2 separate regions of the Homo sapiens genome follow, and region 1 is reported to be linked to region 2. The links are microRNA targets in miRTarBase. Many come from high-throughput screens and were not tested one by one. Region 2 holds a microRNA gene; the other region holds the end of a gene's coding sequence.

Evidence for each region. Region 2 holds the annotated microRNA hsa-miR-7112-5p (ACGGGCAGGGCAGUGCACCCUG, at 3,892-3,913, opposite strand). A microRNA usually pairs through its seed, bases 2 to 8, with sites in the 3' UTR of a target mRNA and lowers its output. Matches are read on the target gene's strand: a 7mer-m8 pairs with bases 2 to 8, a 7mer-A1 pairs with bases 2 to 7 and ends in A, and an 8mer does both.
Region 1: the mRNA of PLXNA1 is a reported target of hsa-miR-7112-5p. Seed matches in the 3' UTR shown: 7mer-m8 at 792-798.

Annotation. Positions count from the first base shown.
Region 1 is chr3:127,033,346-127,040,438 of GRCh38, forward strand. It overlaps PLXNA1 (plexin A1), which reads left to right. Exons shown (of 32, transcript NM_032242.4): 32 at 577-4,044. The coding sequence ends at 672. Among named protein-coding and RNA genes, the nearest start is that of PLXNA1, 54 kb to the left of the region's middle.
Region 2 is chr8:144,258,825-144,265,938 of GRCh38, forward strand. MIR7112 (microRNA 7112) reads right to left here and starts at 3,913; the gene lies at 3,849-3,913. MROH1 (maestro heat like repeat family member 1) reads left to right here. Exons shown (of 44, transcript NM_032450.3): 36 at 1-90; 37 at 416-530; 38 at 1,087-1,233; 39 at 1,362-1,550; 40 at 1,853-2,008; 41 at 2,083-2,217; 42 at 2,290-2,392; 43 at 2,460-2,525; 44 at 2,831-3,102. The coding sequence ends at 2,916. BOP1 (BOP1 ribosomal biogenesis factor) reads right to left here. Exons shown (of 16, transcript NM_015201.5): 4 at 6,093-6,247; 5 at 5,890-6,007; 6 at 5,691-5,792; 7 at 5,401-5,613; 8 at 5,157-5,318; 9 at 5,007-5,087; 10 at 4,868-4,937; 11 at 4,654-4,786; 12 at 4,397-4,577; 13 at 4,029-4,317; 14 at 3,764-3,848; 15 at 3,572-3,679; 16 at 3,221-3,493. The coding sequence ends at 3,340.

The sequences.
Region 1 (7,093 bases), not on the chromosome of region 2:
TCTCGGCCTGTGCCAAGGCTCTGAGGGCTAAGAAGGCCACGGGAGTGAACCAGAGCCACCCTGGGGAGGCCAGGGCAGGTGCAGCAGAGGCAAGGAACCTTCCCCAGGGTGCCACAGGAGGCAGACAGGAGGCAGAGGGCTGTCCTCAGGCAGGTGCCCCAGGGGAGCAGAGGAGCAGCCAGAGACTGCATGTATTAGGGTGGGGAGTGGGGACAAAAGCCTGGGGTCCTGGGGCTCACCAGGGAAAGGGGAGCTGAGGCTCTCTGGGGAGCTCTGCTTTAAAGGGGCACAGAAACCCCAGGGTGTGAGGACTGGGTGGGGACATGTCAGCAGCATGGCCAGGCAGCCAAGGGATCAGAGCCTGCTGTTTTAGGGGGTGAGAGTAGGATGATGACAGGGGCAGGGCTCATTCTCCATATTGGGGTCCTGGAGGGTCCAGGCTCACAACCAAGGTCCTTTGGCCAGGGGTAGATGGGGTTGAACCTCTGGCACCTACTCTGGAGGCATCTGCCCTGGGCCTGCTGAGTGCATGGAGGCTGGTGGCCCGGCATGCTGACAGTTCTCCTGGCCCTGCAGATCCTGGCAGCCCTGGAGAAGGATGAGCAGGCGCGGCGGCAGCGGCTGCGGAGCAAGCTGGAGCAGGTGGTGGACACGATGGCCCTGAGCAGCTGAGCCCCAGCTGTGATCATCCAGCATGATGCAGCGTGAGGACAGCTGAGCAGGGACCGGGACAGCCCTCACCGCATGCGTGTGGAGTGTCCGGTGGTGCTCGGGCCGCCGCAGTGCAGCGACTGCCCGGCCCTCCCTCCCCTGCCTCACCCGGTCGGGTCCCGGCTCTTCCTGTGTGGAGGTGATGGTACCTGCCACACCACAGCTGCGCACACAGCTGCTTGCTCAGGGGCCGGGACAGCACTGGGTGCTCAGGCTGGCCAAGGACCTTCATTGCCTGGCAAGAGCTGCCCAGTGGCCTTCATGGGAGAAGGGCTGACCTCTGAGGGGCTGAGGGGTGAGGCCAGGGCCCTCCAGGGGGAGGGGTAGCCAGCTTGGGCTGTCCCCTTGAGACCAGGACAAGAGGCTGGGGGTGTCAGCATTCCCAGCTTTCCAAGCTGCCCCCAGGCGGCAGAGTCTGAGGGTCCCGGGGCCCGGTTGGCAGCTGGAGAAAGAGGCAAAAAGCCCGTAGCCGGGCAAGAGGAGCTCAAGTCGGTCTGGGCCCGTTGCCACCGACTCCCACCTCCAGCACCCATGCCCGCTGCACCGCTGCCATCCTCAGATTCACCGCGTGCTCTGCGCGGCCGAGGCCGGAGCACCACATCCACCTCGCCCCAGAGAGGCTCTGCTCCCTCCTATGGAGGGGCTGTGGGCCAGGCTGCTCAGACTCCTGGGTGGCTTCCAGACGGACCGGGCAGCCCCTCTCCGTCCTCAGGGCTGTGCCTCTGGGAGCCACTGGGCCAGGGGCCCCGGGTCGCAGAGAGCACGTTCCCGTTATTTATTCCCCTCCGCGTCCTACACAGGCTGCCCTGGCAGCTGTCTTCAAGGGTAGGCTGAGCTCCCCACCCTGGAGCCCCTGAGGGCGGCCCCTGAGCACTCCTCTCTCTCCACTCTCTCTGTCCCTGCCCCAGCGGCTTCCAGTGTGGCATCTCAGCAGTGTCCTGGCCCCTCCAGAGCAGTGGGACATCTGGGGACTGTTTTTGTGTTTAGGGGAAAAAATTCTGCTGCACTCTGCTTGGGCCTTGAGGTCTGTGGCAGGGCTCCTCTGGCCCGCAGTGGCCTGGATCTATCTGGGCCATGAGTGACGGGCAGTGACCAGAGGGACTGGAGGCCAGCGGTGTCCACCCTTGCCCTCAGCAAGAGAGAATGCATTCTTAAAAGAAAGCTGTACATGTATATATATGCATATATATATATGTGGCTCTAGCCTCAGGCTCCAGCCCCAGTGGGGTACTGTACAGTTAACTGAAGAAGAATTTTAAAGACGATTTGAACAAGAAAATGAAGGCAGTGGGAAAGCAATGCCAAATGGTTGTGGAGAAAGTGGCCGGAGCCTCCCTGGAGTGGAGCAGCCCTGAAGCCTGTGCCCCCCGACCTGCGGGCCGCTGTTTTGGTTTGACATGACAAGGAAAGGACTTCCTGCTGACCCTGAGAGCCTCTGGGGTGCCGCGGCACCACGGGGCATGCATGATTGTGCTAGCGTTTAGTCTGAGTTGATCTTTTTAAAACTGCAAGTGTTGAATACTAGAGGTTGTTAGACCCTTTTTTATGTTTTTTAATTAATCAGTCACTTGTAAAAGCAAACAAGCGGTCCATCCCCTTTTCAAGGTCACTTTTTTGATGGTACCGAAGATCCCATGGACATTAAGGGACAGCTAACTGTGGCCAGACTCAGCCCCATGTCCTTGGCCAGGCCCAAGGAGAGGACTCGGCCCCATGGGGTGTGCCAGTCTTGCAGTCCGCCCCAGCTGAGTAGCGTGAGCCAGATGACGCCACAGAGACCCGCCTCTTCCCTGAACGCGGGTCGGTGTGGAGTCAGTGACTGCTGACTCAGGGAGCTCCTTGGCCCCGTGGGCACTGTGCCAGGGCTGGGGCCTTCTGCTGCTGCCACACCCAGCTCAGGCCTGGGCCAGCCCCTGCCCCCAGCCCACTGAGGGGGTGGGCTTACTCCCTGGGCAGTCTTGGGGGCCAGAGCTGAGGCCAGTCCATATTACAGTGGCTGGGCTGTTTTTTTCAGTAGCCCCTAGCATTGGCTGGGATTCCTGTTCCTGGGTGCGCCTCCACCTCCCTTCTGATGTTTCCTGGCTATGGTGGGGTGGGAACCTCAGTTTCCCCCAAAGTCTTCCCTGGATGCTGGCTTCAGGTTGAAGTCCCTGGTTCTTCCAGTTCCTCACGGGTTAGGTAGGGGCTCCTGCATCACCTTCAGAATCCAGTTCCAACCCCCACTCTCCTTAGGCCTTGTGCTCTGCTCTGCCCTGCCAGGCTGCCCTTGTCCATGTGAGTAGCATGGGCGGGTGGTGGGGACGGCAGTGGTGATGAAGGGGGTGCACCACAGGCCTCATGAAGCAGTTCCCACATGGGCGTGTGGCTGGGGCGTGGCCACCACAGAGCACATGGCTGTGTCTAGGCGCAAGCACTTTAGCAGTATCTGTTTACATGCGCAAGGATCAAGCCGACTACCTGTGCTGTCTACTGGGACAGCAGTCTCCGAGCTACTCCGTACCTCCCTCTGCCAGGTCGTGGAGTTAGGCCCCAGTCCCTACTTGTCACTGGTTCCCACTGTGCTCCTAACTGTGCAGCACCTGGGAGCTCTGGCCTGGGGCTGGAGGCCCTGGTAGGAGCTGCAGTTGGAGGCCGTTCTGTGCCCAGCAGCGGTGAGCGGCTCCCATGGGCCCTGTGTCTGCAGGGAGCCAGGGCTGCGGCACATGTGCTGTGAAACTGGCACCCACCTGGCGTGCTGCTGCCGCCACTTGCTTCCTGCAGCACCTCCTACCCTGCTCCGTGTCCTCCCTCTCCCCGCGCCTGGCTCAGGAGTGCTGGAAAAGCTCACGCCTCGGCCTGGGAGCCTGGCCTCTTGATATACCTCGAGCTTCCCCTGTGCTCCCCAGCCCCAGGACCACTGGCCCCTTGGCCTGAGGGGCTGGGGGCCCCACGACCTGCAGCGTCGAGTCCGGGAGAGAGCCCGGAGCGGCGTGCCATCTCGGCTCGGCCTTGCTGAGAGCCTCCGCCCTGGCTTTCTCCCTGTCTGGATTCAGTGGCTCACGTTGGTGCTACACAGCTAGAATAGATATATTTAGAGAGAGAGATATTTTTAAGACAAAGCCCACAATTAGCTGTCCTTTAACACCGCAGAACCCCCTCCCAGAAGAAGAGCGATCCCTCGGACGGTCCGGGCGGGCACCCTCAGCCGGGCTCTTTGCAGAAGCAGCACCGCTGACTGTGGGCCCGGCCCTCAGATGTGTACATATACGGCTATTTCCTATTTTACTGTTCTTCAGATTTAGTACTTGTAAATAAACACACACATTAAGGAGAGATTAAACATTTTTGCTAAAAGCTCTTGGCTCCAGGTTTTCCTTGCTGGGAAGCAGGGGCGGCCGCAGGAGTGCAGCCACATCCCAAACACGGAAGCATATCTCCCTGGGAGACTCAGCCACACCCAGGACAGATGGCCACACTCTGTGAGTTGGGTGCGCTCAGCCCAGGTGACACATTGGAGCCCTTGGCGGAGACTAAAACACCAGTGCCTGACCCCCACTGGAGCCTTGGAGCTTCAGGGGTCTGAGCGGTGGTCACTTTTAGATGCTTCCCAGGCGATTCTCCCGTGACCCCTAGCTCAGAGCAGTGGCTTCCAGCCCATGCCGTGAGGCAGGAATTCCTGGGTGCCTTGTTAACTAAAATCAGATTCTGACCCCGAGGGGCCCATGAGCGACAGCCTGGGGGAGCTGAGGCTGCAGTCCTGGGCCCCCTGCCTTCAGTAGCCAAGGCTGGAATTGTGTTTCCCAGACTCGCAGCCAAGGAACCGGGTTTGAGAAATGTTGGTCTTTCCAGCAGAGACAGGCTATGCTGCTTCATCTCATGAAAATGTGTACAGATACTAATGATGGAGGTGTGGATGCAGCTTCTGCCAGTGCATGGCTTTGGTCAGTGGCCCCGTCCCTGGGCTCATTTCATCCATGGCTCAACAGGGGTGGCTGCTCCTGCCGCAGAGGGTGGGTGCAGGGTCAGGTGTGACACATCCCCAAGGGCCCTGGGCACCTGCTCTGCAGCTGCGCCTCCAGGCAGACCCCAACCTGGACCGTCTGAGCACTGCCTGTAAGTGAACTCACTGGGACTTCCCGGCAACCCTGGGAGGTTAGGGGCAGCTGCACCTGCAGCTGAGGAATTGAGGCACACAGAGGTTGCACAATGTGTCCCAGCCACATGGTGGTAAGCAGCAGCCCGCCCAAACGTAGGCCCTTGGGACCCCAGGCCCTCCCCACCGCCCCCAAGCTCCCACCTGTCTCCCACCAGCCTCTCCATGAACTCGTTCCCAGGGCTGACAGTGGCCCATAAGTCATCAACAATACCTCCCACTCTCAAACAGGCGCATCTTGACAGTGGGGCTGCAAGCACAAGCTCTGTGCCAGGCTCAGTAACTCAAGAGAAATCAGTGTAATCACCACGAAATTGTGTCGGAAACAAATTTAGCAAATGTGGTCCCGTTTAGGGTGTGACGCAGCCTGTTCTCATGGCTCAGTCCCCTTCAGCTTTTTTCCGGCACAATCAGCCCATCCTCAATTACCCTCATTAGGCCTCCAAGGGCTCCAGCCCATCAGCCTGGAAGCTGAGCCATCTCTGAGCCGCAATCAGCGCTCGCTGTGCGAGTGATCGGGCGCAATTACACAGCAGCGGTGATGGGGCCTTCTGATTGCTGCTTGAGTGCGCTGGCTCCTGAGGGTATTAAACCATCAGCTATTAATGCTGGTGGCTCTGAGCAGGGCACCTGGATGGGCTTGCTGCAGAGCAAGGGCGAGGCCAGCCTGTGGGCCTGGGTGGGATGGAGGCACCCTCCACCCAGAGCAGATCCAGAGGTGACTTCAGACTTCCCACCTGGACCCCAGAGCAGCCACAGCTCAAGAGCAAACACAGGCTCTGAGCAGAAATAAAAAGTAACAGGCCAGGCTAAAACCTGATACAGTGACTATAGATGGTGTCTTGCCCTGAAGAAAACTGGTGGCATGGGAGGGTGCCCACCTGGCCAAGTGGGCAGGGAAGGCCTGAGGAGGGATGGAGGAATCGAGGCTTGAGAAACAAGGAGCCAGCTGAGGTGACATCGGAGAGAGCATTCCCTGTGTCCAGAGCAATGGAAGAGGCCAGGTCAGCTCTGTGCAGGGAGGTGCAGGAGGTGCTGTGCCTTGGGGAGCGAGGAGGGTGGGCTCTGATTCGCGCGTCTGGCAGTCGCGGGACAAGGCCAGAGGAGGCTGGAGACCAAGAGGCTCCTGCAGGTATCCCCAGGGCCCGTGGCCCGTGGCACCCCTTTGGGGCCTTCCTGGAGAGCCATCAGCCCTGATGGTGGAGCTTTGGGGGCAGATGTGTTCTTTCTGAGGACAACAGTCATGGAGTTGTCGGTGGAAGTGACTTGGGTCATATCCAGGCTGAGCCTCTAGTCCTGGAGCAGAGCCTCCAGCCAGCCTGCACTGGGCACATAGGCAGGTGCACCATAGACCTTTGGGGAATGGGACACGGATGCTGGGGAGTGGTTTCTGCAGCATACAAGGCTGCCGGGCTGCAAGTCAGTACCAGGACCAGCCCCATTGTAGAGGGGAGAACCTGGGAGCAGAGAGGTAAAGTCACTACCCTCAAGGACACACCGTTACCCATGGTGGGACCAGGATTCAAACTCAGACTCTCTACTTCATGCTGCAGCACTCCTCTAGTGGTCTCCATGCTGGAGACTCCTTGAGGACAACACCAGGGCCTGATACCCAGAGTCTGGACACAGAGCAGAGGGGCGTGAGCAGCTGGCAGTGAGCAATGCCCTGGGGCCTCGGGAACTTTGAGGAAAGCATGTTCTCAGGAGCATTTCCCCTGTAGCCGCCTTGTAGATGCCGTCAGCCCCTTGAGTCTGCCCCCATGGCTGGGAGACTCACGCACTCTGCCCAGCGTGGGGTCTGTTTGAGAGATGGGCGTTCCAGCCATCGTTGCTGCATCCGGCTAAAACCACCCTGAGAAGCACCTGAGCACATGTTCCCTGCTGGGTGCCCCCCTGCATTAGAAATGATAGAAACTTAAGCTGGCTGAAGCAAGAAAGGGAACTAGCAGGCTCTTGAAATCAAAAAGTCCAAGGGTGCATCTACCTCAGGCATGGCTGGATCCAGGGGCTCCTGGAGGTCATGAGAAGTCTGTCCTCCTTCTCTGTCCTCTGTAAGGGCTTCATTCTCAGGCCAGCTCTTCCTAAGTGGGGGGCAGCGATGACCACCAGAGGCTCTAGGTCTACCAGCTGAGCAGTCCTGGTGAAAACAGGACACCCTTGGTCATCACGCACATCCAGGTAGGGATTTCATTGGCCAATGTTTGGGGCAATGTCTTGATTTGCTATTTGAACCAGTCATTCTGGCCTAAA
Region 2 (7,114 bases):
GGATGTGGTACAGCGCATGGACCTGGAGGGAGGCTGGGAACTGCTCAGGACCTCGGCGGGGCATGAGGAGGGGGCCACCAGGTTGGCCAGGTGAGCGGGCCCAGCCCACTGCAGCTCCAGCACTGGCTGGGCTCCACCGGATCTCGAGCCCAGAACATGACAGGATCAGGCGGGGGCCCATGCGTGTCAGGCCAATGGTGCCCTGGGCTCCTGCCTGTTCACTCTCTGGGGCAGGGGTAGGGAGGCACCCCTGCAGAGGCCTGGCGAGGCAAGCTGGGAGGCATCTCTGAAACATAGAACTCCCAGAACCTGGCAGCTGGCGGTGGAGCGGACCAGGGCTGTGCAGGGTGGAAGGTGCCTGGGTAGGGTTCAGCACAGCAACAGCCCCTGCACCCTCAGCGGCCCCCTTTCCCAGGGCCATGGCTGAGCACGCAGGGCCCCGACTCCCCCTGGTGCTGAAGACGCTGGCATGCACACACAGCAGTGCGTATGAGAACCAGAGGGTGACCACCACCGCCTTCCTGGCCGAGGTAGGCCCTTCCAGGGACGGATGCTGGGCACCAAGGTGGGGCTCCTGCTCAGGACAGGCACGGGATGCCCTTTTCTTACCCCTAAAAGGCCCCCTCGACCGTGGTCTGTGAGGGAGGTTATGTGGATGCTAGCTACCTCCTCCCCCATGCCAGAACTCACTCAGTCCCACCCAGGGACACCCCCTCTGTGCCTGGTGAGAGGAGGACCGAGGCTCCCTGCAGCCTGTACTCTCCCCAAGTCCAGCTGGGTACATTTGTAGCTGGACAGGGCTGGCCCCTGGGACCCCAGGTGCCCTTGGTGGTGTGGTCTTGGCCTTCGTGGCCAAAGATGCCAAAATCTTGCCCAAGGCCGTGCAGCAGAGCACAGCGGGCGTCAGAGCAGGCCCCAGCGGCACAACAGGGAGGGGTCGCCACTGATCGGAGACCCAGGGAGTAGGTGCTCCACCTCTGTCTGCCACACCGGCGTGGGGACAGCCTCTGGTGTTCTGGGCCTGGGCTGGTGGGTTGAGCCCTGGGGTCAGCGGGGAGAGGGAAGTCACAGCACCTCTGCCTGCAGCTGCTGAACAGCAACGTGGCCAACGACCTCATGCTCTTGGACTCGCTGCTGGAGAGCCTGGCGGCTCGCCAGAAGGACACATGCGCCAGCGTGCGGAGGCTGGTGCTCCGCGGCCTGGCCAACCTGGCCTCCGGCTGCCCTGACAAGGTGGGGTGGCCACCAGCCCCTCTGGGTCCCAGGCAGCATGGGTGGGGGGCTGTGCATGGAGGCCACCCTGTCTTGTGGGGTAGCAGACGGTGACTCTGGGACCCAGGCTGAGTGTAAGGTATCCTCAGGTGCGAACCCACGGCCCCCAGCTCCTCACAGCCATGATTGGCGGGCTGGACGACGGGGACAACCCTCACAGCCCAGTGGCCCTGGAGGCCATGCTGGGCCTTGCGAGGCTGGTGCACCTGGTGGAGTCCTGGGACCTGCGCTCAGGGCTGCTGCACGTGGCCATCCGCATCCGGCCTTTCTTCGACAGTGTAGGCTGGTTGGGGCAGGGGGAGGGAAGAGGGCCCCAGCCCTTCCTGCCTCTTACTCTGAGCTTTAGCCCCAGCCCCACCCTCCTCCCTGTCTCCCACCTCGGCTAGGTGACCGTGGAGAGCGCGGACCTGCAGGGCTGCTGCTTTGCTGGGCCTGGCAGCCCCCACCCGTAAGGCCCCCACCCGTCGGGGTGTTTCCTGGCCCGGGTCAGGCAAGGGCACCCATCAATGGCAGGGGGCTAGGCAGGCAGGCCTGCAGGGGCACAGCCTGTGAGGAGACGTATGCTGCATGTCCTTCCCAGGAGAAGATGGAGTTCCGGACGGCATCTATCCGCCTCTTTGGGCACCTTAACAAGGTCTGCCACGGAGACTGTGAGGACGTCTTCCTGGACCAGGTGGTGGGCGGGCTGGCGCCCCTGCTGCTGCACCTGCAGGACCCTCAGGCCACCGTGGCCAGCGTGAGTAGCCAGGGGGTGAGTGGGATGGGGTGGGTGGCCTCAACTGGACTTGGCCCCAGTGCCGCATCCCTTAGGCCTGCAGGTTTGCCCTGCGCATGTGTGGCCCCAATCTGGCATGTGAGGAGCTCTCAGCTGCTTTCCAGAAACACCTGCAGGAGGGCCGAGCCCTGCACTTCGGGGAGTTCCTCAACACCACCTGCAAGCACCTGGTGAGGGGTGGGGCCAGGCGGGGCGTGGTGGGTGGGGCGGGGCCAGGCGGCACTGACCAGGCCTCTCCCCAGATGCACCATTTCCCAGACCTGCTGGGCCGTCTCCTGACCACCTGCCTGTTCTACTTCAAGAGCAGCTGGGAGAACGTCCGAGCTGCTGCACCCCTGTTCACCGGTAAGCACCACCCCCTGCCCCACCCCCACGCCGCCCGGCAGCCCCGCCTGATGCCCCCACTTCACAGGGTTCCTGGTGCTGCACTCGGAGCCCAGGCAGCAGCCGCAGGTGGACCTGGACCAGCTCATTGCGGGTGAGCACCCCTCCACGGGGCCCCTCCGCTGGGCCCTGCTGACCCTGTAGGCACCCGCAGGGACTAAGTGATTTTCCTGGATTTCAGGACTTTTTCCCTGTCACTGGTGACCTCATCGTCTCTAGTAATTCACGGAAACTTCTTAACTGTTCCAAAAGAGCTTAAAAAACACTAAAAAAGGAAAAACGATCTTTCCGTTGGCTCCTGAGCCTCCCAGCAGAGGCTGTCAGGAGAGCGTGGCCCACGCGCAGGCATGGGCATGCCGAGGTCACAGCCCGCAGGCAGCCCCCCTCCTCTACCCCCAGCGCTCCAGATCCTGCTGAAGGACCCGGCCCCCGAGGTGCGGACGAGGGCTGCTGAGGCCCTGGGCCGCCTGGTGAAGCTCGCCTAAGGCTCCGGCCAGCACCCCCAGCGAGGAGTATGCACCCAGACCTGTGCCTGAGCTCCAAGACAGGGCCTCCTGAGGACCACAGCCTGGGCACACGACTGGAGGGGCCTGGCCCCAGAACAGGCACTGCTGGGGACCAAACCCAAGCCCTTCAGTGAGGGATGTGCCCAATAAACTCATCTGCTCCCAGCGAGTGACTGACAGGGTGCGATGCTGAGCCTCTTAGGGGATGGGCCAGAGGGTGCCCTGGACTGGCTGTGTTGTCCCCACTGTTTTTGCAAAATTGAGTGAGGGGAAGGCTCGGCGCTGTGGTGGGGGCGGCTTTGTTGGCAACCCCAATTCAAGAAGGTGGGAGCACCAGGCAGCACAGGGTAAAGGCTCTGTTGACTTCAGCACGACCACCCCAGCCCCAGGCAGGCAGAACAGCTAGGTGAAGAGGCGGACAGTCCCGTCTGCCCCCGAGGAGAAGACCCACGGCTGGGTGGGGTGGAAGATGACGTCCAGCACTCCCAGATCTCGGGTCAGCACGTGTCCCTTCAGCACCTTGACGGGCACCAGCAAGGGGTTCTGCAGAAGGTCACTGTGGGGACGAGGAGGGCTCAGGGCACGGCCAGACACCACTGCCCTGGGGAGGGGGCCAGGCAGGGTCAGCACTCACTTGTACACCATGCCATGGCAGACGATGACACTGCCGTCGTCCGAGCCTGACGCAAAGAGTGGGTACCGCGGGTGGAAGGCCACAGCCCGCAGAGCCTTCTTGTGGTGTCTGGGGGGAGGGAACCAGGTTGAAGGCAGGCTCGGGCTGAAGGGAGGGGCTCTGCTGGCCGCCTCCACCCCCAGCTTTCCTCACCTCAGCATCCTGTATGGCTTGGTGGAAAGATCCAGGTCAAACCACACCAGCTTGCTATCGTAGCTCCCACAGATGACGTTGTCACCTAGGGCCAAAGGCTGTGATGCAGGTGTTCCCGCTCTCACCTGCAGGGTGCACTGCCCTGCCCGTCACCTACACCCCTCACCTGCAGGGTGCACTGCCCCTACCCCCACCCCTCACCTGCAGGGTACACCGCCCCCCCCCCCACCCCTCACCTGCAGGGTGCACCGCCCCCACCCCTCACCTGCAGGGTGCACCGCCAGGCTGGACACCCACTTGCAGTTGGGCATCAGCTTCTTGGTGAGCTCCTGGCGCAGCAGGTGGTAGAGGCGGACGCTGCGCTGGGACGCCACCAACAGGAAGGGCCGGGCAGGGTGGAAGGCCACTCGCTGCACCTGTCCGTGGCTGCGGCGGAACGGACTCTGGCTGCGGCGACGGCTCAGCTGGTGAATCAGCACCTGGGTGTGGCCTTGGGTGGCCAGCACCACGGCCAGGTAGTCCCCACGCCCGTGCCAGGTCACCTGCGTCACTGGCTGCAGGAGAGCAAGGCTGGCTGAGTGGCTGAGCCGGGCCCCTCCCGCTGCAGCCTCACCCCCAAGGCGCCCCACGTACCTTCCCGTGGCAGATGCGCAGCCGCAGGCCCACTTGGCGCTCCTCCTCTGAGGCCTCCAGCCAGCGGGCCGGCTGCAAGGGGGGCTCCTCAGGCGGGACGAAGGCGCTCAACAGCTGATCTGTGCTGCCCGCCACCAGCCGGTCCCCCAGAGCTGGGTTCAGCAGCAGCACCGAGTCCTCCCTGTGAGCCAGGCCCAGACACGGCCCCTAAGCACAGTGCCACCCCTGGCTCCCCAGCCCCCAGGGCCTCCACTTACACGGCTGCAGCCACCAGGCAGACAGCGGGGCTGGGGTTCCAGGCCACACTCTTCACCACGCCCCCCACGGGAACAGTCCTCACACAGCGGGCAGTGGCCACCTCCCAGAGCCGCAGGGAGCCGTCGTCAGAGCCTGGATGCGGCAGAGACAGCTCTCAACACCTGGCCATCCCACCTGCCCCCCAGCTCAAGGCTGCCCCCAGCTCGGACCCACCTGAAACCAGCCACTGGCCCCCAGGAGAGACACTGAGGCACCGGACAAGGTCACTGTGGCCCCTGTAGACCTGAGGAGGCGGCGGCAGTGAGGAGTCAGACTGGGAGGGTGCAACCCCAGCCCCCTAGTCTCCACTTACCAGGGCCTGGCACGTGGGGAAGGGCTGCAGGTCCCTCGGCCGAGGCAGCTTGGGGATGAGGTCCTCAGGGTCTACATTCACCTGGGGCAGGAGAGCGCCAGGTCAGCCTTGCCCCCTGTGCCACCCCCCTGGTGTGCCACCCCCACACACCCTCATCTTGCGCTGCCGTGGGCACAGGTACAGGTCAAGGCAGCGCTCGAAGCGTTCCTGGATGAAGCGTCCGTAGGCAGGCACGGCCCGCAGGCTCGGGAACTTGCGTGGCAAAAAGCTCAGCTTCCTCTCGCCTGGCTCCTGCTGTTCCCACGCCAAGCGCTGTGGAGACCAAGACACAGGGGTGGGGAGGGTCACAGGGAAGCATGGGGACAGGGTCCCGGCCCCCAGGATGCAGGCCCACCTCCTCCTCGCTGAGCAGGTATTCAGGGGGTGGGTTGTACGACTCGGCGTGGCCTGGCAGGGCCAGCTTGGGAGCAGGTACGTGCATCTTGTGGCGCCCGAGCACGGCGTTGGGGTCCTCCTGGGCCCACAGGTCATAGAAGCTGGGGGTGGGGTCTCGGGGCCGGCGAGGCTGGATCCAGCCCATCTTGATGGCGTGCACCATGCGAGAGACCTGCATAGACAGCCGGGTCAGGACGGGCAGTGCGGGGCGGTCAGCCCAGGCCAAGCCCCAGGGGCTGTGTGCCCCACCTTCTCCTTCTCCACCAGGGAGGGGATGAAGCTGCGCTTGTCGGCCGGGCGGTTGGTCACCGGGTGGATCATGACGTCCCCGCTGAAGAAGTCGACAGCCGGCTGGGGGAGAAGATGTGGGCGTGTGGGCCAGAGTGGCTGAGGCCCTGCTGGTGCCTCCAGGACCCCCGCCGCCCAGGGGCCAGCCCCTGCCACCTACCTCATAGGGGTTGAAGCCCACATCCCCAAACTGGCCACTCTGCAGCCGCCGCACCAGGGCCACCTGCTCATCCGTCAGTCTCAGGTCCCGCCCTGTCATCGGGTCCTGCACGGTGCGCCTGGAGACCGCCAGTCAGACCCCGCCAGCCCTGCCCCACCCCTCGGGCCCACCCCGGCTGCTGGCCCCACCCCACCAGCCCTCACCAGTAGTCAGGATCGTCCATCTTGTCCAGGAACTGGTCCAGCTCATCCCGGGTCCGCAGGGGCTTGTAGATGCGCCTGCCATCCAGGTCGTAGCCCACGTGGGGGAAGTCATCGTACCACTCCAAGGGCACGTTGCCCACCGTGTTCCGGATGTCCTGCAGCCGGGGGCCACCATGTCGGCATCTGATCCTACAAGGCCCACCCCCGCTTCGGGCCGCCCAGGGGAGCAGGTGAGGGGGTTGCAGGGGGAGTGCAGGCCCAGCCTCAAGTGCCCTGAGGTCACTGGCCCTGACCTACGCCTGTTCCCCAGCCCTGGGGTCTGACGTGGCATGGCGGCCACGCTGCCCCCACCCCCGCCCTCGGAGGCGCCGGAGCTGCACCTTCACATTTTCCACTGAAGTGGTGCCAACCCCAGAGCTCCCCCCTCACTGGATTCCTTGGCCAGGGCTCTGGGCAGCCACAGACAGGGATGACCTCATCACCCACGGGCTCCCTCCCCTGGCAGGGGCCTTAGGCAGAAGTGGGCAGCTATAAGACGGGGACTCGGGGAAGACCCCAACTGACCCATTCCACAGAGAGGCAGAAGCCAAGACCTCTCTGTGGGGGACCCCCCACCGTCTGCCCTCGGCCCCTCCCCAGGCAGAACAGCCACGTTCCTGGACGTACATTCCTGGTTGCAGCCCCTGCCAGCCGCCACCCTCGCTCCTTCCAGCCTGGGGACCGCTGCCCAGGAGGCTGCTTCCTGCAACAGTAGCCACGGGGAGGGGCCCAGGCAAGACAGAGCACAGCTGGGAGCCTGCCGGGCCCCCTGCTGCAGGAGGGACCCCTTGGGCCCTGCCCCCTGCTGAGGGTCCTTCCCTCTCCTCCCCATGGAGATAGGGGGCCATCCCCAAATTGGATAATGGGGGTATGTGTGTGCTTCCTGAGGGGCCTGGTGGCCCTGGAGAGGAACGGGGGAAGGAGGAAGGGGCAAGGAGACCGACGGGGTGAGAGGTCCACACAGCACAAGAACAGGGGACATG